6 linked regions of the Homo sapiens genome follow. The protein of the gene in region 3 purifies or fractionates together with the protein of the main gene of each other region. This does not show direct contact. Each region holds a gene or a part of one and is shown on either strand. Other genes may lie near its edges. The genes, in order: YTHDF2, ARL1, PTPN23, NTPCR, PPP4R3B and GLUD1.

Region 1 (3,500 bases), on a different chromosome or scaffold from region 3:
AATTAGCCGGGCGTGGTGGTGGGCGCCTGTAATCCCAGCCATTTGGGAGGCTGAGGCAGAGAACTGCTTAAATCCAGGAGGCAGGGGATGCAGTGAGCTGAGATCGCGCCACTGTACTCCAGCCTGGGTGACAGAGCAAAACTCCGTCTCAAAAAAATAAAAATAAAAATAAATAAAAATAAAAAATTGGGCCGGGCACAGTGGCTCATGCCTGTAATCCCAGCACTTTGGGAGGCCGAGGTGGGCGGATCACCTGAGGTCGGGAGTTCGAGACCAGCCTGACCAACATGGAGAAACCCCCGTCTCTTACTAAAAATACAAAATTAGCTGGGCGTGGTGGCACATGCCTGTAATCCCAGCTACTAGGAAGGCTGAGGCAGGAAAATCGCTTGAACCTGGGAGATGGAGGTTGCAGTGAGCCGAGATCACACCACTGCACTCCAGCCTTGGCAACAAGAGAGAAACCCCGTCTCAAAAAAAAATAAAATAAATAAATTTAAAAAATAATAATAATAATAAAGATATGAGCTGGCATGAGTTAAAGTATATATAATAGGAAAAAAAAAAACAAAAGTTGGTTCTTTGAAAAAATTAAGATTACTTTGTACCCCATAAATATATACAATTATAAATTGTCGGCCAGGCTCAGTGGCTCACGCCCATAATCCCAAAAAAAAAAAAAATTGGCTGGGCACAGTGGCTTACGCCTGTGATCCCAGCACTTTGGGAGGCTGAGGTGGGCGGATCACCAGGTCAGGAGATCGAGACCATCCTGGCTAACATGGTGAAACCCCATCTCTGCTAAAAATACAAAAAATTAGTTGGGCATGGTGGCACACACCTGTAGTCCCAGCTATTCAGGAGGCTAAGGCAGGAGAATCGCTTGAACCTGGGTGGTGGAGGTTGCACTGAGCTGAGATCGCACCACTGCACTCCAGCCTGAGCAACAGAGGGAGATTCCATCTCAATAAAAAATAAAAATTAAAAATAAATAAAAAACTAGCCAGCCCTGGTGTCAGGCACCTATAATCCCAGCTACTCAGGAGGCTGAGGCAGGAGAATTGTTTGAACCCAGGGGGCAGAGGTTGCAGCGAGCCAAGGTCACGCCACTTCACTCCAGCCTGGGCAAAAGAGCAAAACTCTGTCTCAAATAAAAACATTAAAGATATTAACTATGAATAAATTAGGAAACTACAAGTCCAGACAGATCTGGTCTGTGGCTTAAATAACTAGAAATAATGTCGACATCTCTATCCACCCATCCACCTTAGGCCCTCCTCACTTTAAATCTATGATTACAAAATAGAAAACTCGGCTGGGTGCAGTGGCTCATGCCTGTAATGCCAGCACTTTGGGAGGCCGAGGCAGGTGGATCACTTGAGGTCAGTAGCTCAAGACAGGGCTGGCCAACATTGTGAAACCCCATCTCTACTAAAAATACAAAAATTAGCCAAGCGTGGTGGCACATGCCTGTAGTCCCAGCTATTCAGGAGGCTGAGGCAGGAGAATCAATCACTTGAACCCGGGTGAGCCAAGATCGCGCCACTGCACTCCAGCCTAGCCAACAGAGCTAGATTCTGTCTCAAAAATAAAAATTAAAAATAAAATAAAATAAAATAGAAAATTCAGTCTCTGGAGGAAATATACAAAAAGCCATAAGGTGGCAATGTTAAAGTCTGCACATATGCAATCTCTTCATATAATATTCAAAAACAGTAAATCTGCCTATTTAGCTTCCCTCTATTTAAGCTTAATAACCTTTCTACTTACTACTGCACTGTTCTATCCCTCCCTCTCCCTTCACTTTCAAGTGGGCCATAAAACACAACTGAGGCATATTCATATTCACCTGGATATAATTTTATTAACATTAAAATCTGGTAAATGTTTATCTCTCCCACAAAATTAAATCTATATAGCTCTCAACTAGTTTTTCCTATGCCCCCATGAACCTTGAAAGAAACCCAAAGTTCAGCACCCCAGCTGACAATATAAAATGCTTAGACGGGAGTCATTCTTTGAGACGGAGTCTCATTCTAAAATTCTTTGAGACAGAGTCTCGCTCTGTTGCCCAGACTGGAGTGCCGTGGCACAATCTCCACTCACTGCAAGCTCCACCTCCCGGGTTCATGCCATTCTCCTGCCTCAGCCTCCCGAGTAGCTGGGACTACAGGTGCCCGCCACCATGCCCGGCTAATTTTTTGTATTTTTAGTAGAGACGGGGTTTCACCGTGTTAGCCAGGATGGTCTCGATCTCCTGACCTCGTGATCCGCCCGCCTCAGCCTCCCAAAGTGCTGGGATTACAAGCGTGAGCCACCACGCCCGGCTAGGAAAATGTGTTTTTAAAAGTGATGTGATGACACAAAAATTACTTCCATTGCTTGATATGGTTTAATAGAATCAACCTTTATAGTCTCCAATGCCGTGAATAAGTTAAATAAGTCTAATGACTTGACTTTAGACTTCAAGTCATATATATATGAAACATCAAGTCATATATAATTAAGATGCTAACTTCCCCCAGATAAAGAGACAAAGTATTTTTCATCAGTTCTCCAATTTAAAGCAAGGCTATAATATTTTATTAAAAATATCTATTTTGGCCATGGTACCTCCTGCCTACAAGCCCAGCACTTTGGGAGGCTGGGACCAGCAGTTTGAGACCAGCCTGGGCAACATACTGAGAACCTGACTCTACTAGAATTTGAGACAGAGTTTCGCTCTTGTTGCCTGGAATGCAATGGCGCAATCTCGGCTCACCGCAACCTCCACTTCCCGGGTTCAAGCGATTCTTCTGCCTCAGCCTCCTGAGTAGCTGGGATTACATGCGTGCGCCACCATGCCCAGCTAATTTTGTATTTTTAGTAGAGACGGGGTTTCTCCATGTTGGTCAGGATGGTCTCGAACTCCCAACCTCAGGTGATCCACCTGCCTTGGCCTCCGTTATGTGCTGGGATTACAGGCATGGGCCACCGCACCAGCCAGAAATTTTTAAACATTAGGCCAGGCATGGTGGCTCACACCTGGAATCCTAACAATTTGAGAGGCCAAAGGAGGAGGATCACTTAAGCCCAGGAATTCAAGAACAGCCTGGGCAACACAGTGAAACCTTATCTCTCCAAAAAGTTTTTTTAATTAGCCAGGCATAGTGGCGAACACCTGTGTGGTCCCAGCTACTTAGAAGGCTGCAAGAAAAAGTATGCTTAAGCCCAGGAGGTCAAAGCTGCAATGAGTTGTGATCAGGCCACTACACTCCAGCCTGGGTGACAAAGTGAGGCCTTCTCTCAAAAAAAAAAAAAAAAAAAAATACACACACACACACACACACACACTCATGCACGATATAATGACATTTCAGTCAATGACAGATCAGTAAGATTATAATGGAGCTGACAAATTCCTATCACCTAGCGATGTCGAAGCCACTGTAAGGATGTAGCACAAAACATTACTCACTTGTTTGTGGTAATGCGGTGTAAACAAACCTACCGCACTGCAA
Region 2 (3,500 bases), on a different chromosome or scaffold from region 3:
CTGTTGTTATTTATACTTTTTTCATTTGTTGCCTTGAATTTACTTAGAGAAGAGTAGTACATTTAAATTAAAGAGTTCATACAGTTTGCTCAAGATTTTTTAAATTATGCCTCTAATGTTAGTCTGTCACTCAGGGTATTTCTATATTGTTACTGTTTAAATTTATGGACTAAAACGAAAGAGGCTAGCCTCTAAGAAAGAAGAGCGTTTTGAACCCTGTAATGTCTGTTATTCCTTTTTGCTACCTTCAGTAAATTTTAGTGCCCTTAGTTTTTGCTTCTCAAAATCACCCATCTCTGTCTGGGCATCTCCTGCAGTGCACAGAGCAGCACAGTGGATAGTTTGGAGTTTCAGTGAGTGCTGCTTTACACCACACTCTTTGTTGAGACAGTGTCTTGCTTTTTTGCCCAGGCTGGAGTGCAGTGGCACATTCATAGCTCACTGCAGCGTCTACCTCTACCTCTACCTCCTGGGCTCAAGCGATCTTCCCACCTCAGCCTCCCAAAGTGTTGGGATTACAGGCATGAGCCACTGCACCCAGTCTACACCATTCTCTTGTCTTGCACATATAAACGATGTTTTTTACTGTTGGTGAACATTGTGATTACACTCCTACCTAATTCTAAGGGAGACATCATGAACTTGCATTTTAGTTTTTTGCTCAAATTTGTCATAGTATTGTTATTTTTTAATTGTAATAGACATACTTGCCAAATACTCAAAGGTATCACTTACCACTGCAGACTTAAATATAAAACAAAAGCTAATTGTCCAGTTATACCTGGAAGTTATTTTTTATTTATTTATTTTTTTGAGACAGAGTCTCACTCTATTGCCCAGGCTGAAGTGCAGTGGCAAGATCTCGGCTCACTGCAACCTGTGCCTCCCAGGTTCAAGCGATTCTCATGCATCAGCCTCCAGAGTGGCTGGGATTACAGGCATGTGCCACCACACCCGGCTAATTTTTGTATTTTTAGAAGAGATGGGGTTTCACAGTGTTGGCTAGGCTGGTCTCGAACTCCTGACCTCAGGTGATCCACCCGCCTTGGCCTCCCAAAGTGCTGGGATTACAGGTGTGAGCCACCGCACCCAGCCATGGAAGTTATTTTTTACCTATTTTTCACCTAAGAAGGATGGCAGAGAAAAGGGATGGGACACCTGCCCTTTGACCACCCAGCCATGACCTTATTACAAGTGAGTTCTGGAGGATGTCTGCAGATGGGCTGTGAGATTGAAAGCTGCAGCCATGGCTGTGTCCATGCTGTAGTTTAGAACTGAAGTTTAGCTTTTTTTCTTTTGGTCTGTTTATTTGCTGCCAGCCAAAATTCTGCTTTTTATAGTACATCCACAACTGTACTTTCTAAATACAGCTTTCGAACACTTTTAACTACTCTATTATGAGGGGAGTTTAATATAATAGGATTTCCATTGAGCTAAAAATTATGTTTTCCTTTTTATTTCTTTTTTAAATTCTTTTTTTAATTTATTTGAGCTAAAATTATATACTTTATTTGCAGAACTGCTGGCTTTTAAAAAATATCCTGAAGATGGTATTGATCTTGCTAATTGATGTTTTGTGCACACACCTGCACATGTGTGGGGGAGCAGAGCATACTATTTCGTCTTAAATGGTATAAAATCTCAACCAATAATGTGATTCAACAATTACCATTTCTTTTTAACTCGAATCCTAAGACAAATTATATATATATATATTTTAAACTCTAATAACAGTTACCATTAATTGCTGTAACTCAATTAGATAGGATATTTTGAAGGTGGAATGTATTAGTCTACACATACCACTGATTTGATTTCTCTTCCAGCCATTGGATTTAATGTAGAGACGGTGACGTACAAAAACCTTAAATTCCAAGTCTGGGATTTAGGAGGACAGACAAGTATCAGGTATGGTACAAAGACCAGGTTATTTGGTAGTATTTGACATTTATTGATTCTTTTAAGGGTTAAAATCAGTAAACCCGAATATGTGTTCTATTGTAATTTAAATGGAGCCACCTAGTTTAAAATGAGGTAAAATTGGGAACTATTTCCTTAGAGCATCCATTGAGTTAAAACTTAAGGAAGCCCAGTTTTCCAGATACCTGTTTAATGAAAATCTTTTCACGAAAATCTCAAGACCTTATTACTTCAGCTATTCTCAATTAGAAAGGACCCTCCATTTAGTTCTTGTCAGTCTCTCCTCTCTGAAACACATTGTTTTGGAATTCATTAAAGTACCTTGCAGGCATACCATTTAGGGCTAATATAAAAATAAATGCCATTGGCCGGGCATGGTAGCTCACGCCTGTAATCCCAGCACTTTGGGAGGCCGAGGTGGGCGGATCATCAGGTCAGGAGTTGGAGACCAGCCTGACCAACATGGTGAAACCTCGTCTCTACTAAAAATACAAAAATTAGCTGGGCATGGTGGTGCGTGCCTATAATTCCAGCTACCTGGGAGGCTGAGGCAGGAGAATTGCTTGTACCAGGACTTGGGAGCTGGAGGTTGCAGTGAGCTGAGATCGCGCAACTGCACTCCAGCCTGGGCTACAGAGCAAGACTCTGTCTCAAAAAAAATAAATGAATAAATAAAAAATAAATGCCTTCTGAAGTTCAGGTCTTCTGCTTAGCATTTTGGGCTTGACATGGCAACAGTGAATGTTTGATGACCGTCAGTAGTTGGTCACGATAGTACCATCTTAAAAGATTAGTAATGCATTCTCCAAACATTCTGACTTCTTTTAACTCATTTCTTGAATCACGTTTCTTTTTTTTTAAATTGTGCAGCCTCCCAAGCCAGAGTAGGCTCAGAGAGACTCCATTGAATCACTTTTGAGTTTATTTATAATTTTAGCCATTTCTACTGCTTGATGTCAGTGATTAATTTCATGACTGTTAAATAAAATCACGTTTAAAAAGTTTATTCCTCTTAAGGGGTGCCTAGTTAAAGATTTGTTTAAGAAGATGTAATGATCAGGTCTGTGTACAACTTTTCTATCAGTATATTTAGTGATTTCATAGATTATAAATAAATTTTGTCAGCCTGAAGTCTGAATGAATTCATTTGGAAACTCCCTGGTCCTGTGAGTCAATGTTTATCAACATTCTTTTTTTTTTTTTTTTTTTTTTTTTTGAGACAGAGTTTCACTCTTGTTGCCCAGGCTGGAGTGCAATGGCACCATCTCAGCTCACTGGAACCTCTGCCTTCCTGGTTGAAGTGATTTTCCTGCCTCAGCCTCCCGAGTAGCTGGGATTACAGGCACCTGCCACCATGTCCAGCTAATTTTGTATTTTTAGTAGAGATGGGGTTTCTCCATGTTGGTCAGGCTGGTCTCGAACTCCCGACCTCAGTTGATCTGCCCTCCTCAGCCTCCTAAAATGCTGGGATTACAGATGTGAGCCACCGTGCCCAGCCAATGTTTATCAACATTCTTTTGACTCCATCACATCTGAGGGATATGGTACATATATCCACCAGAAACAGTGAATCATTAAGG
Region 3 (3,500 bases):
GGTGAACCAAGATCTCGCCACTCCAGCCTGGGTGTCAGAGACCCTGTCTCAAAAAAAAAAAAAAAAAGTTTGTTTCTTAGAGTAGCCCAAGGAATGCCCTACATTTGAGTCAACTCTGGAACTGGAGAAAAAAGAAACATAATGTAACTGGTGAATAAAGGTAAAACTAACACATGTGATGCCTTTTAATTGCCTTTTCTTCTTGTCTTATTGCTTTAATTAGCATGATGAAATTCCAAATGTTAAATTAAGAGCAAAGCATACATAGAAGAATGAGAACATACTAGTACAAGAGAAGGTGACACAGAGGGATTAATATTAGGTCTGGAGTCAGGAAATCTGTCTTGGGGTCCTAGCACTATCATTGCTTATCTGTGGTTTGCCCTTTCTCTAATCTGCAAAATCATGGCAGGACCAGGATGGTTGTTTCCAGTGATCTCACCTAGCTACAAAATTCTCTACTGTTTGGTGCTCAGTAAAATAGCAGAGTAGCATCATGGAAATAGCATAGCTATTGGAATCAGACCTTGGTTTAGGTCCCCTCTCATTCCTTTAATAGCTGAATGATCTTGAGCTGTCACAAAGATTACATAACTAATGTAGTCCTCACTTTTCTTACCTGAAACATGGAACTAATAATATACCTCATAAGCTTCTGAGAATCAAAATTAATGCTTCTAAGTTCTTTTTTATTTTTATTTTTTTAGAGATGGGGTCTTGCTGTAACACCCAGGCTGGAGTGCAAAGGCACGATCTTGGCACACTGCAGCCTCTGCCTCCAGGTCTCAAGTGGTCCGTCCACCTCATCCTCCTGAATAGCTGGGACCACAGGCACGCACCACTCTGCTAATTTTGCTTATTTTTTTTTAGAGATAAGGTCTCACTGTGTTGCGCAGGCTGGTCTCAAACACCTGGGCTTAAGTAGGTATATAAGTATATACACCTACTATGTACCCACAAAAATTAATGGGGTACTTGATATGGCCAAACAGGTATAGTAATCACATCAGGGTAAATGGAGTATCCATTACCACAAGCATTTATCCTTTCTTTGTGTTACAGACAATCCAATTATACTTTTATTTTTAAATGTAATAAATTATTGCTGACTATAGTTACCCTGTTTTGCTGTCACTACTAGATCTTTTTTTTTTTTTTTTTTGAGACAGAGTTTCGCCTTGTCACGCAGGCTAGAGTACAGTGGCACAATCTCGGCTCACCACAACCTCCGCCTCCCGTGTTCAAGCGTTTCTACTGCCTCAGCCTCCCGAGTAGCTGGGATTACAGGCACCTGCCATCATGTCCAGCTAATTTTTGTCTTTTTAGTAGAGTCTGGGTTTTGCCATGTTGGACAGGGTGGTCTCGAACTCCTGACCTCAGATGATCCACCCGCCTTGGCCTCCCAAAGTGCTGCGATTGCAGGTGTGAGCCACCACGCCCAGCCTCAAATACTAGATTGTATTCATTCTATCTAACTATATTTTTGTACTCATTAACCATTCCCACTCCACTCCCCCACCCCACTCCCACTACCCTTCCCAGCCTCTGGTATTCATCATTCTACTGTCGGTTTCCATGAATTCAGTGGTTTTAATTTTTAGCTCCCACAAAAAAGTGAGAACATGCAGAGTTTGTCGTTCTAATGCTTGTTAAGTTCTTAGTACAGGTCTTGGCCTATTGTAAACAATATTTTCACCTGAGCATCTTCCTTCCCTGTTTGGGAAATAACTCGAATCCTTATGACAGCTCTGAGCTAGACGTAGCAAGTGATATTAACCCCATTTTACACATGAAAAAAGCCAAGCCTAGGCTGGGCATGGTGACTCATGCCTGTAATCCCAGCGCTTTGGGATGCCGAGGTGGGAGGATAGCTGGAGGCCAGGAGTTCGAGACCAGCCTGGGCACCATAGCAAGACCCCTGTCTCTACAAAATAAAAATAAAAATTAGCTGGGGCCAGGCATGGTAGCTCACGCCTGTAATCCCAGCACTTTGGGAGGCCAAGGCGGGTGGATCACGAAGTCAAGGGTTCGGGACCAGGGCCTGGCGCAGTGGCTCACGCCTGTAATCCCCGCACTTTGGGAGGCCGAGGCGGGTGGATCACGAGATCAGGAGATCAAGACCATCCTGGCTAACACGGTGAATCCCCGTCTCCACTAAAAATACAAACAATTAGCCAGGCGTGGTGGCGGGTGCCTGTAGTCCCAGCTGCTCAGGAGGCTGAGGCAGGAGAATGGCGTGAACCCGGGGGGGTGGAGCTTGCAGTGAGCTGAGATGGCACCACTGCACTCCAGCCTGGGTAACAGAGCGAGACTCCGTCTCAAAAAAAAAAAAAAAAAAAAAAAGGAGTTCGAGATCAGCCTAGCCAACATGGCAAAACCCCATCTCTACTAAAAATACAAAAATTAGCTGGGTATGGCTGCATGCACCTGTAGTCCCAGCTACTTGGGAGGCTTAGGCAGGAGAATTGCTTGAACCCAGGAGGTGGAGGTTGCAGTAAGCCGAGATGGCGCCATTGCACTCCAGCCTGGGTAACAGAGCGAGACTCCGTCTCAAAAAAAAAAAAAAAAAAAAATAGCTGGGCATGGTGGCACACAGCTGTAGTCCTAGCCACACAAGAGGCTGAGGTGGGAGGATCACTTGGAGTTTGAAGCTTCATTGAGCTATGATAGTACCACTGCACTCCAGCCTGCCTGACAGAGCAAGACAATTTAAAAAAACAAAAAACAAAAACCAAGCCCAGATTTCACAGCAACTCAGGGGCACTGTTTCCCACTTGTAATCTGGTAACTCCTTTCTTTTCTTTTTCCCCTCGGTGGCTGTGATCCCTGGACGTGCCCTCACTGAGAGCTCTCCACGGGTCTTCTTTTATTCCTTCAGAAAAGGATCCCCAGCTACTTCAAAGCCTGGCTGTTTTTGGAGGTTCTCTGGTCTTCTTCCTGTTAGTTGTGTAGGTACTGGGGTCCTGTCAGGGCCTCTGGTTCTTTCTCCTCGTCTGCTGCTGGGCCTGCCTTCTCAGCCTCCATTGGAGCTTCATACTTCCCGCTAGACTGTTCCGAGTTCTGCAGAGTCCCAGACCATAGCGAAATGGGGACAAGGTCTCTGTCCCTTACTCCAGGAACTTCACCCAGCCTCTTTCTTCTTTTTTAGTGGAGGAGTGATCAGCAGTCACAGAGGATTTTGTTAGGGTTTTAAAAACATCCTTTTGCTTCTAACAGGCTGCAAATAATAATAATAACATAAATATCCTGGCTGCTCCACTGACTCACTGTGTGGCCAGGGATTCATTTTCTGTGCCTGTTTTTCAGAGTTGTTTGTAAGAACCATATTTTTAAAAAATAGAAATGCTCTGGGAGGCTGATGTGGGTCAACTGCTTGAGCCCAGGAGTTTAAGACCAGACTGGGCAACATAGTGAGACTCCCATCTCTATAAAATAAAAAAAAGTTTGGGCGTGATGGCTCATGTCTGTAATCCCAACACTTTGGGAGTCTGAGGCAGAAG
Region 4 (2,772 bases), on a different chromosome or scaffold from region 3:
TGTCTGCAGGAGAGCAAGCCAGGAGGACATGGGCCTGGACGACACGGCCTCGCAGCAAAGTGTGTCAGACGAGCAGTGACGGGCGTGCGGCCGGGCGGGGAGGCTGGCTCCCCCACACCTCCCACCTGCATTGCTCTCCCTCGTGCTCCCCAAATCACCACAACCAACCAATACCGCGATCCATGAGGGACTCCTCCTGTGGAAAAGGAGAGCTGTTCCAGAACACAGAACTGATCTCAGGTTTTTGAAAAAAAAAAAAAAAAAAAAAAAAAAATCAAACAACAACAACAAAAAAACCTCACATGATGGGGAAACAAAAAAAAGCAACAAAGAAGCCACACCACACCTCCCTGGCCAGGCACAGCGCTGCCCAGAGCGGCACACCGCGGACAGCACCACACATGTTCCAGAATCTGAAATCTCAAAAGCCATTCACTAACTTAAAACAACTCAACAGAGCCATGAAACAAATGCCCTGATGAAAATAAGACAACTGCATGTTACATCATCGGCACTTTATACATTACTGTTACCATGAAAAAGAAATGAACAGCAGCACGTCTGATACCATCAGCTGGGCAGATGCATTAAGGTTAAATCTAAGTGTCAAGAAAACCCTATTTCTTTATAATATTTATGCAGCTGTTAAGCGTAACATGGTGGCAGCTTCACAACAAGAACCGTGATCATGCATGCAGTCATGTCTCCAGTATTCTGTGAAAAGCCAGGATACGTTAGGATGTGAGTTTAGAAACTGAGTCCATTCGGTGCATGGAAATCCACCGCGGAGTCACACAATGCTCCTCACTGTAGTCCAGGCGATTGGTGGGCCGCCAGCACCCTGCGGGCTTCACAGGGACGCGTGCTTGTTCTCCAAGCCCCGCAACCCTTACTGTGCACACAACATCGCACACACCTTTGTTTTTGAAATTAAAATGTTTATAGTTATTGCTGCGTCCAGTGTTTTGAGTTATACTGAAGCTTCTCATTTCTACAAGTATATCTTTTATGGTGAGAACGACATTTGGGTAAATTCTGAGACAACTTTTCCCATCTTCAAGACCCCAGGAACCTGTATCCTTGCTGGGGTAGAGGTCCCAAAATGCAGTCCATAGAGTATCACTGGCCTGGTGAACCATCCCTTTTCAAAAGACAATAGTTAGAAGGAAATACTCAATTTTAAACAGTCACACAAATTTCTTCAAAGTATTTAGGATTTGGAAATTTGAGGAGAGGGTTGGGGGAAGGGTATTGTAGAGAATCTCTTGCCCCTTGGAAAGTAAATGGTAATGCTTTTCTAATTTTTTTTTTTGTAAACTAAGAATCAGCAATTAATAAAAGCAAGTGTACTCTATAATCACAGACAGAAGGTTCTTATTTTCAGGTCAGCACTCCCTAGAGGTGCAAACTTTATTTAATTTAAATGCAGTTGTTTGTCTAATGGGAAGCTGATAGGGCCTTGCTGCAGTTCTCTAAGGTGGCCAAATTAAACTTGGCTGGCAGCTCCTGTAATCCTCTTGGGCAACTTTACAGCCAAGCCCCAAGGGCTAAATGGCAGGCCTGGAGCTGTGAGTGTGGCCTCCCCACGGAGGGTGACTCCTTGAGTTCAGTGAGGAAAACCACGGTGCCTGGCAGTGGTCAGCCAGGAGTATGACTGGCCACTCCTTAGGCATCCAGAAGTAGGAAACACAGAAAGCATTCCACAAAACGGGGAATCTCCCCAAAGAGCTAGAAACCCAGGCTGGAAGGAAATGGCAGCGCAGGCAAGAGAGCAAGAGCACCCTGGGTGCTCCTCCATCCCGTTTCTCTGGGGAGGTTCATGAGGTGCTTCTTCAACAGTTATTCTGTTCATTGCTTATCACAGTTCACGAGTTCTCGTGGCATCTTTTGTGGGGAGGAGGGAGGATGAAAGTGACACAGTGTATCTACAACACTAAGGTCACATTAATCAGATAGGAATGCAGTGACGCTCTGCACCGTCTATGAGAGCGGGCATCTCGAGTGTGCATACCGAGGCACAGATGTGCACACACATCCGCAGGCAACTGCACCCACAGAGAAAAGGTGGCAGTATTGGAGTCACCCCAGGATTCTTGGGGGCTGTTTGACCAGCCATCAACAGTGCAGCCATACTTCTTTTTCTTTTTTATCGTGGTACACAACTTTTATATTTACAACTCATGAACTTGTTAATCTGGTCCTTCATCTAGTCAGCTATGTATCAGAAAGGACTTCCTGCAAAATGTTATATTCTAAGCCCCCATTTAGAGGAGGCATCCCTAAACTGACATTTCTTGCTAGAGTTGTTCAAATATTCTGCCAGTATATAGCTAAAGAGTTATTTTCCAGTTCAAGAGTTATTTGGGGGCTGGGCACGGTGGCTCACGCCTGTAATCCCAGCACTTTTGTAGGCTGAGGCAGGCAAATCATGAGGTCAGGAGTTCGAGACCAGCTTGGCCAACATGGTGAAACCCCGTCTCTACTAAAAATACAAAAAATTAGCTGGGCGTGGTGGCGGGTGCCTGTAATCCCAGCTACTCAGGAGGTTGAGGCAGGAGAATCGCTTGAACCCAGGAGGCGGAGGTTACAGTGAGCCGAGATAGCACCACTGCACTCCAGCTCAAGCGACAGAGTGAGACTCTGTCTCAAAAAAAAAAAAAAAAAAAAGAGTTATTTGGACACAGATCAAAATGGTTTCTCCTCTAAAGATAATATTAAAACCATAGCACTTGGTTTTATATAAATCATGTGGCCAATTTGGCATTATTGATT
Region 5 (3,500 bases), on a different chromosome or scaffold from region 3:
AAGTGTTGAGATTACAAGTGTGAGCCACTGTGCCTAGTATGACTCTTGTTTTTTATTAAGATATGTTGCCCAGGCTGGGGTGCAATGGCTACGCACAGGCACAATCATAGCACCCTACAGCCTCAAACTCCTGGCCTTAAGTGATCCTCCAGCCTCAGCCTCCCAAGGAGCTGGGACCACAAGCACACGCCACCACACCTGGCTTTGACTCTGCTTTTGATTTAGTCAGTATCAGTGGGACTGATTTGAAGTAACTTAAAATTTCTGTCACACCTATCAGGTATGTTATTTCATGTTGTATCATATAATGATTCTCTTCTCTTTCCAACATGTTTAAATGCTTAAGTTTATTGGGTAAGTACATCTTCTTCCATTAACGACTTCAGTACTATGCACAGTAAGGAAGAAAGTGATGTGAATCAATAATGACTTTTCAATATCCAGTCATATGACATTCAGCTTGACTCATTCTAACTCCTTTTAGGCTCACAATTTGGTACTTCATTTATGAAAGAAAAGATGTATCTTGAGCACACAATTTAGTAGTTGGCTCATTTTAAAACTATAATGTTAAAAGAAGAATGTTAAACATTCCCCTCTGAATTTACTCAATTTTTTTTTTTGAGACAGAAAAATCGCTTTGTCTCTCCACCTGGAGTGCAGTGGTACAATCATGGCTTACTACAGTCTCGACCTCCGAAGCTCAAATGATCCTCCCGTCTCACCTCCAGAAGTAGCTGGCACTATAGCTGCGCACCACCACACCTGGATAATTTTTGAATTTTTTTTGGTAGAGACAGGGATCTTGCTATGTTGTGCAGGCTGTTCCCGAAATCCTCAGCTCAAGGGATCCTCCTGCCTTGGCCTTCCAAAGTGCTGAGATTGCAGGTGTGAGCCACCATGCCTGCCATAGTCAACATATTTTAATACAGCAAAATGGCCTATAAACATCTCATTCACTTACTCATTAAGTTTTTAATAAAAAACCCGCTAATGGAAACAAAAAATTTAACCCATTACTGCAGTCCCAGCTACTGGAGAAGCTGAGATGGGAGGATCACTTGAGCCTAGGAGTTCAAGCTCAGCCTGGGCATCATAGCAAGATCCCATCTCTGAAAACAATTTTTTAAATTTTAACTCCACTACTGAACAACAGACTTCATGTGATATTTGGAAATTAATAACTTTCTAGACTAATTTATTGAATAACCTAAATGATGCCTTTTACAAAGGATAATTCTAACAAACATAGAAAAATGTTACTGTATTTGGAAATCTCAATTTGTGTAACTTCAAATAACTACAAATTAAGCTGAATACAGCCACTGCTCACACCTGTAATCCCAGCACCATGGAGGTGCTGAAGCAAAAGGATCACTTGAGGCCAGGAATTCAAATCAGCCTGGGCCACACAGTGAGACCGTCTCTACAAACACAACAACAACAAAGTTTTGTAATAAATTTTTTAAAGGTGCAAATTTAGCCTGGACAACATAACGAGACCCCATCTTTACAAATTTTTTAAAAAATTAGTAAGGTTGGCCGGGCTTGGTGGCTCACACCTGTAATCCCAGCACTTTGGGGGGCCGAGGCGGGCGGATCACGAGGTCAGGAGATCGAGACCATTCTGGCTAACACGGTGAAACCCCATCTCTACTAAAAAATACAAAAAAATTAACTGGGCGTGGTGGCGGGCGCCTGTAGTCCCAACTACTTGGGAGGCTGAGGCAGGAGAATGGTGTGAACCCGGGAGGCGAAGCTTGCAGTGAGCAGAAATCGCACCACCACACTGCAGCATGGACGACAGAGCGAGACTCCATCTCAAAAAAAAAAAAAAAATTAGTCAAGCATGGTGGCTCACATCCATAATCCCATCTACTCAGAAGGCTGAAATTGGAGGATCGCTTGAGCCCAGGAGGTTGAGGCTGCAGTGAGCTGTGATCAAACCACTGTACTCCAGCCTAAGGGACAGAAGAAGACCCTCTCAAAAAAATTATTTTCAAAAGTGCAAATTGAAGATTTGGGTGAAAATATGAAAAACCATGTCTATTACAAAGAAACTAAGTTTAACATAACCCCTAAATGGCCCTATGATTTCAATTAGAAAAGTGTACTCAATTTAAACAAAAATAAACAGGTAACATCATTCACACAAGTTTTTCACTCTTCTTCAGTGTTTCCATATTCTTCTCATTACCAGAGTTCTCTTATACACCTGAATGTTATGTTGCCAAAAAAAAAAAGCCCAACGAAAAAATAAACTATTACAAAACCCCAAATAGTATATTATTTAAATGTGATTACAGAAAACATTTCCAAATGGTGTAATTTTTTTAAATAATGCATTTTTTCCAATACTTTATACTAAGTGTATACAAAAATGCTAATTATCTAGAACTAATTTTCTAGTAGAGCAACATTATACATGAAATTACCTACATATCCTAATGATTCTAAAGTATTCACAGAATCACTATGTATTTTTAACTTATGTTGGGTGACTATTTTAAATACAAACCTACTCCATAATGTGATGTTTCCAAAGTAACAACAGCTAAAAGATCTTATATACAATCTGAGAAGAATCCATTATTAAACCTAAATTTGTAGGGAACTGTTTATGACTTAGTTACATTTAAGAACAAAGTTCCTGATAATTATATTCATGCAGATAAGGGAAATATGGTAAAAAAAAAAAAAAAATTAGTATTTCTTTCCCCACAAAGAAGCAAGCAAACAAAAACAAACTAAAAGTGATCATCTGGTAAAAACTCGGTATAAAGACAGAGATTAAGAGCTGCCTGGCTGACTGAGAAATTAAATTTACTTAAATGTCTACCTTACAATGTCTAAGGTATAGGAAACATCTTCAGGTTTTCAATTCAGGACAAATGTTTAATTTGCTTCTCCATCAAAAAAGACACACAATATTTTCTAAACAGAGAAAAAAGCTATGAATTGAATATTGAAAATTTTAAAGTATTTCAAATAACTGATTAAGAATGTGTTATATACATAATTGTTCTAACAGTAAGACTTTGTAATAATAAGCTGCACAACAGACAGAATTTTATTCCTCCAACTACGAAGTACTTGTTTCTGGGCATCCAAATTTTCATAAACCTTGAAGTGGGCACTGACGCTGTAAATGTAATCCTAAAATAATTTATCTTCCTTCAAAAATCTCTGCCATCGTGACTTTACATACCACACACAAAAAAGAATACCTGGAAATAATTCAAATGTATAACAACAAGTGTATGTCATACATAAGAATACTATACAGAGTTTAAAAAGAAAACTAGATCTACATTGTTAACATGAACGAATATTCAAAATGAATGTGTGAAAAATGCAAGCTGCAGAATACATGTAAGAGTATGACATCCACTGTGTAAAGTTTAAAAACACACAACAGACTACATATTATTTATGGATACATACATATGCAGAAAAGGTATAAAAGCATGTACACAAAGAATACACATCAACTTCAGAAT
Region 6 (3,500 bases), on a different chromosome or scaffold from region 3:
AACCCCCATCTCCACTTTGCAGAGCTAACCACTGCTACCAAAGATACTCTGCTCACACAGAAGCACAGGACTCTTACCCACACATACCTTTTTAAAAATACTTCATTAAATACTTTCGTTACTCTACTCTTAGATGAACTTGAATGTCATGTTATATTAAGTATCAAGTTATATTAAAAACTTCCTTTTTCAAAAGTGGCAGAATACAACATTGAGTCTTCCCATCCAAGACAATTGTAAAGCCTCTTCCTGTCTCAGGCTCTGTTTTGGTGACATGCTCAAGTCTTATAGTAGATTTTAAGACACTCATGAATGGGATGTGTATGTACCTTGATTTAGTAGTGCTTAAATACTTGTTGAAGGAATGATAGCTTTAGGCTGAGCTAGCTCTACTTTTGTGATGTTATTTGTACTTACTTGATGTTCAATCCCTACACTCTTGTTTTTTCTGTCAGAAAATATGGTCTACTTTGCCGGGCGTGGTGGCTCACGCTTGTAATTCTAGCACTTTGGGAGGCCAAGGCAGGGAGATCACTTGAGGTCAGGAGTTTGAGACCAGCCTGACCAACATGGAGAAACCCCATCTCTACTAAAAACACAAAATTAGCCGGGCGTGGTGGCACGTGCCTGGAATACCAGCTACTCAGGAGGCTGAGGCAGGAGAATCGCTTGAACCTGGGAGGTGGAGGTTGCGATGAGCCAAGATCTCACCATTGCACTCCAGCCTGAGCAACAAGAGTGAAACTCCGTCTCAAAAACAAACAAACAAACAAACAAAAAAAAAAACAGAAAATATAGTATATTTTATTGTATTTTCTAGGAACAGAAAGCTGAAAAAGTGAGTCTTGTCTCTATTGGTAAAAGTATACCTTAAATACATTCATACACACACTCCTAATTAGCATATTTTTGATTAAATGAGAATGTGCTTTGACTTTAATTCATTATGTTCCTTCAACAGAGAAATTGGACTTGACATTTCATTCTTTCAATTACCCCCTCTTACAGGATATTAATGCACACGCCTGTGTTACTGGTAAACCCATCAGCCAAGGGGGAATCCATGGACGCATCTCTGCTACTGGCCGTGGTGTCTTCCATGGGATTGAAAATTTCATCAATGAAGCTTCTTACATGAGCATTTTAGGAATGACACCAGGGTTTGGAGATAAAACATTTGTTGTTCAGGTAAAAACAAAAACAAAAAAAGTTTCCTTAATAACTGATAGACATTAAGTAAAGTTTTCAATGTTTTTAGAATTGTAATTTTAAAATTAAGTTATCTCAAATCTCTTAAATTTTAGAGTGGTGGTTTTCAGAGTAATAGATATTTTGTTTTTTGAACCTTGGTATGATTCATGTAACTAGAACTGATTTAAGTATCTCTCAAGTACATGTGAAACTGTTACCAACTTCAACCAAACTATCACCAAATTCAACCAAAATATTGGTTAGTATTCAAACTTGAAATTATAGCTAGAAGGGCAAGTCTCTTAACATAATTTTCTAAGTTTTGTAAGTATATAGAAAGGTTTACACACTGACCCAAATTTGTTTCATGTGTTAACATGTATTTTACTTAGGAGAATCTTAATTAAGTTGAAATTACTTGAAAATAGAAGTGGTGGCTGGACACAGTGGCTCATGCCTGTATTCCCAGCACTTTGGGAGGCCAAGACGGGTGGATCACTTGAGGCCAGGAGTTCGAGACCAGCCTGGCCAACATGGTGAAACCCTGTCTCTACTAAAAGTAGAAAAATTAAGCCGGGCGTGGTGGCTCACGCCTGTAATCCCATCACTTTGGGAGGCCAAGGTGGGCAGATCACGAGGTCAAGAGATCAAGACCATCCTGGCCAACATGGTGAAACCCGGTCTCCGCTAAAAATAGGAAAATTAGCAGGGTGTGGTGGTACACGCCTGTAGTCCCAGCTACTCTGGAGGCTGACGCAGGAGAATCACTTGAACCCGGGAGGTGGAGCTTGCAGTGAGCCGAGATTGCGCCACTGCACTCCAGCCTGGGTGACAGAGCCAGACTCTGTCTCAAAAAAAAAGAAAGAAAAATTAGCTGGGCATGATGGCGGCACCTGTAATCCCAACTACTCAGGAGACTAAGGCAGGAGACTCACTTGAACCCGGGAGGCAGAGGCTGCAGTGAGCCAAGATTGTGCCATTGCACTCCAGCCTGTGTGAGAGAATGAGACTCGGTCTCAAAAAAAAAAAAAAATTGTATTTCTCCAAATTAGTGACATCCCTTTTCACAACATAGGACATCTGATCATCAAGGACTGAGGACCTGGTGGTGTACTTAACACCACTGCCATTTATTGATTGATTGAGATGGAGTCTCACCCTATTGCCCAGGCTGGAGTGCAGTCTCGGCTCACTGCAACCTCCACCTCCCAGGTTCAAGTGATTCTCCTACCTCATTCTCCCAAGTAGCTGGGATTACAGGCACGGACCCCATGCCTAATTTTTGTATTTTTAGTAGAGACGGGGTTTCACCATGTTGGCCATGGCTGATCTCGAACTCCTGACCTCAAGTGATCCACCTGCCTCAGCCTCCCAAAGTGCTGGAATTACAAGCGTGAGCCACCATGCCCGCTCATCACATTCTTAAACAGAGAATTTTATTGTTGAAGAGAAACCAGTTAGTACATTGTTTCTTTTGGCAAAAGAATTTTGAGAATTGCTTCTAAATAAACAGAGTATGGATTTACATTGGTCAAAATATGACTCTTGCTGTCTATACCAGGACTTTAATTTTTGTGTTATGGGTAATTGTTCTTCACAGGGATTTGGTAATGTGGGCCTACACTCTATGAGATATTTACATCGTTTTGGTGCTAAATGTATTGCTGTTGGTGAGTCTGATGGGAGTATATGGAATCCAGATGGTATTGACCCAAAGGAACTGGAAGACTTCAAATTGGTATTAATACATTTTTATAGCATAGACACTAAATATAAATATTTAAAACTCTGGTGCAGCTATTAATTGTGATTTTCAATCAATGGCAGCAACATGGGTCCATTCTGGGCTTCCCCAAGGCAAAGCCCTATGAAGGAAGCATCTTGGAGGCCGACTGTGACATACTGATCCCAGCTGCCAGTGAGAAGCAGTTGACCAAATCCAACGCACCCAGAGTCAAAGCCAAGGTGACAACATTATAGAAACCAGAACCAACATTATCAATGTGAATGACGTTAGGGGGGTCATAGAAGAGTCTGATTGAGTTTTCTCTTTCTTTTTAGCAGCTTTATTGGCACATACTGCACATACCATACAGTTCCCCCATTTAAGGTACATAATTTAATGGCTTTTAGCTACCGGCACAGAGTTGTGCAACCATTACCAAAACAAACGCATCTGCCTGACACTCCTGTAAAAAAAAAAAACAAGCAAACAAAAAAAAAACCTAGATAAATAGAAAAGTGAAAGGTAGTTTTATACACTTGGCAGAGAAAAATAACCTCTATTTAACTTTAACTGAAACTGTGCT

The links.
Region 1: the proteins of PTPN23 (region 3) and YTHDF2 fractionate together in Homo sapiens (co-fractionation; one large-scale study listed by BioGRID). This does not show direct contact.
Region 2: the proteins of PTPN23 (region 3) and ARL1 purify together in Homo sapiens (affinity purification with mass spectrometry; one large-scale study listed by BioGRID and IntAct). This does not show direct contact.
Region 4: the proteins of PTPN23 (region 3) and NTPCR purify together in Homo sapiens (affinity purification with mass spectrometry; one large-scale study listed by BioGRID and IntAct). This does not show direct contact.
Region 5: the proteins of PTPN23 (region 3) and PPP4R3B fractionate together in Homo sapiens (co-fractionation; one large-scale study listed by BioGRID). This does not show direct contact.
Region 6: the proteins of PTPN23 (region 3) and GLUD1 purify together in Homo sapiens (affinity purification with mass spectrometry; one large-scale study listed by BioGRID and IntAct). This does not show direct contact.

What each region holds. Positions count from the first base shown.
Region 1 is NC_000001.11:28,760,940-28,764,439, reverse strand, and holds part of YTHDF2 (YTH domain-containing family protein 2), read right to left. Parts: intron 1-3,500. UniProt on the Homo sapiens protein: Specifically recognizes and binds N6-methyladenosine (m6A)-containing RNAs, and regulates their stability. M6A is a modification present at internal sites of mRNAs and some non-coding RNAs and plays a role in mRNA stability and processing.
Region 2 is NC_000012.12:101,401,273-101,404,772, reverse strand, and holds part of ARL1 (ADP-ribosylation factor-like protein 1), read left to right. Parts: intron 1-1,826; coding exon 1,827-1,908; intron 1,909-3,500. UniProt on the Homo sapiens protein: GTP-binding protein that recruits several effectors, such as golgins, arfaptins and Arf-GEFs to the trans-Golgi network, and modulates their functions at the Golgi complex.
Region 3 is NC_000003.12:47,387,521-47,391,020, forward strand, and holds part of PTPN23 (tyrosine-protein phosphatase non-receptor type 23), read left to right. Parts: intron 1-3,500. UniProt on the Homo sapiens protein: Plays a role in sorting of endocytic ubiquitinated cargos into multivesicular bodies (MVBs) via its interaction with the ESCRT-I complex (endosomal sorting complex required for transport I), and possibly also other ESCRT complexes.
Region 4 is NC_000001.11:232,981,611-232,984,382, reverse strand, and holds the end of NTPCR (cancer-related nucleoside-triphosphatase), read right to left. Parts: 3' UTR 501-2,772; downstream 1-500. Other genes in the region: PCNX2 (pecanex-like protein 2), read left to right, coding at 1-79. UniProt on the Homo sapiens protein: Has nucleotide phosphatase activity towards ATP, GTP, CTP, TTP and UTP. Hydrolyzes nucleoside diphosphates with lower efficiency.
Region 5 is NC_000002.12:55,611,123-55,614,622, forward strand, and holds part of PPP4R3B (serine/threonine-protein phosphatase 4 regulatory subunit 3B), read right to left. Parts: intron 1-3,500. UniProt on the Homo sapiens protein: Regulatory subunit of serine/threonine-protein phosphatase 4 (PP4). May regulate the activity of PPP4C at centrosomal microtubule organizing centers.
Region 6 is NC_000010.11:87,060,344-87,063,843, reverse strand, and holds part of GLUD1 (glutamate dehydrogenase 1, mitochondrial isoform a precursor), read left to right. Parts: intron 1-1,008; coding exon 1,009-1,188; intron 1,189-2,791; coding exon 2,792-2,929; intron 2,930-3,018; coding exon 3,019-3,156; intron 3,157-3,500. UniProt on the Homo sapiens protein: Mitochondrial glutamate dehydrogenase that catalyzes the conversion of L-glutamate into alpha-ketoglutarate. Plays a key role in glutamine anaplerosis by producing alpha-ketoglutarate, an important intermediate in the tricarboxylic acid cycle.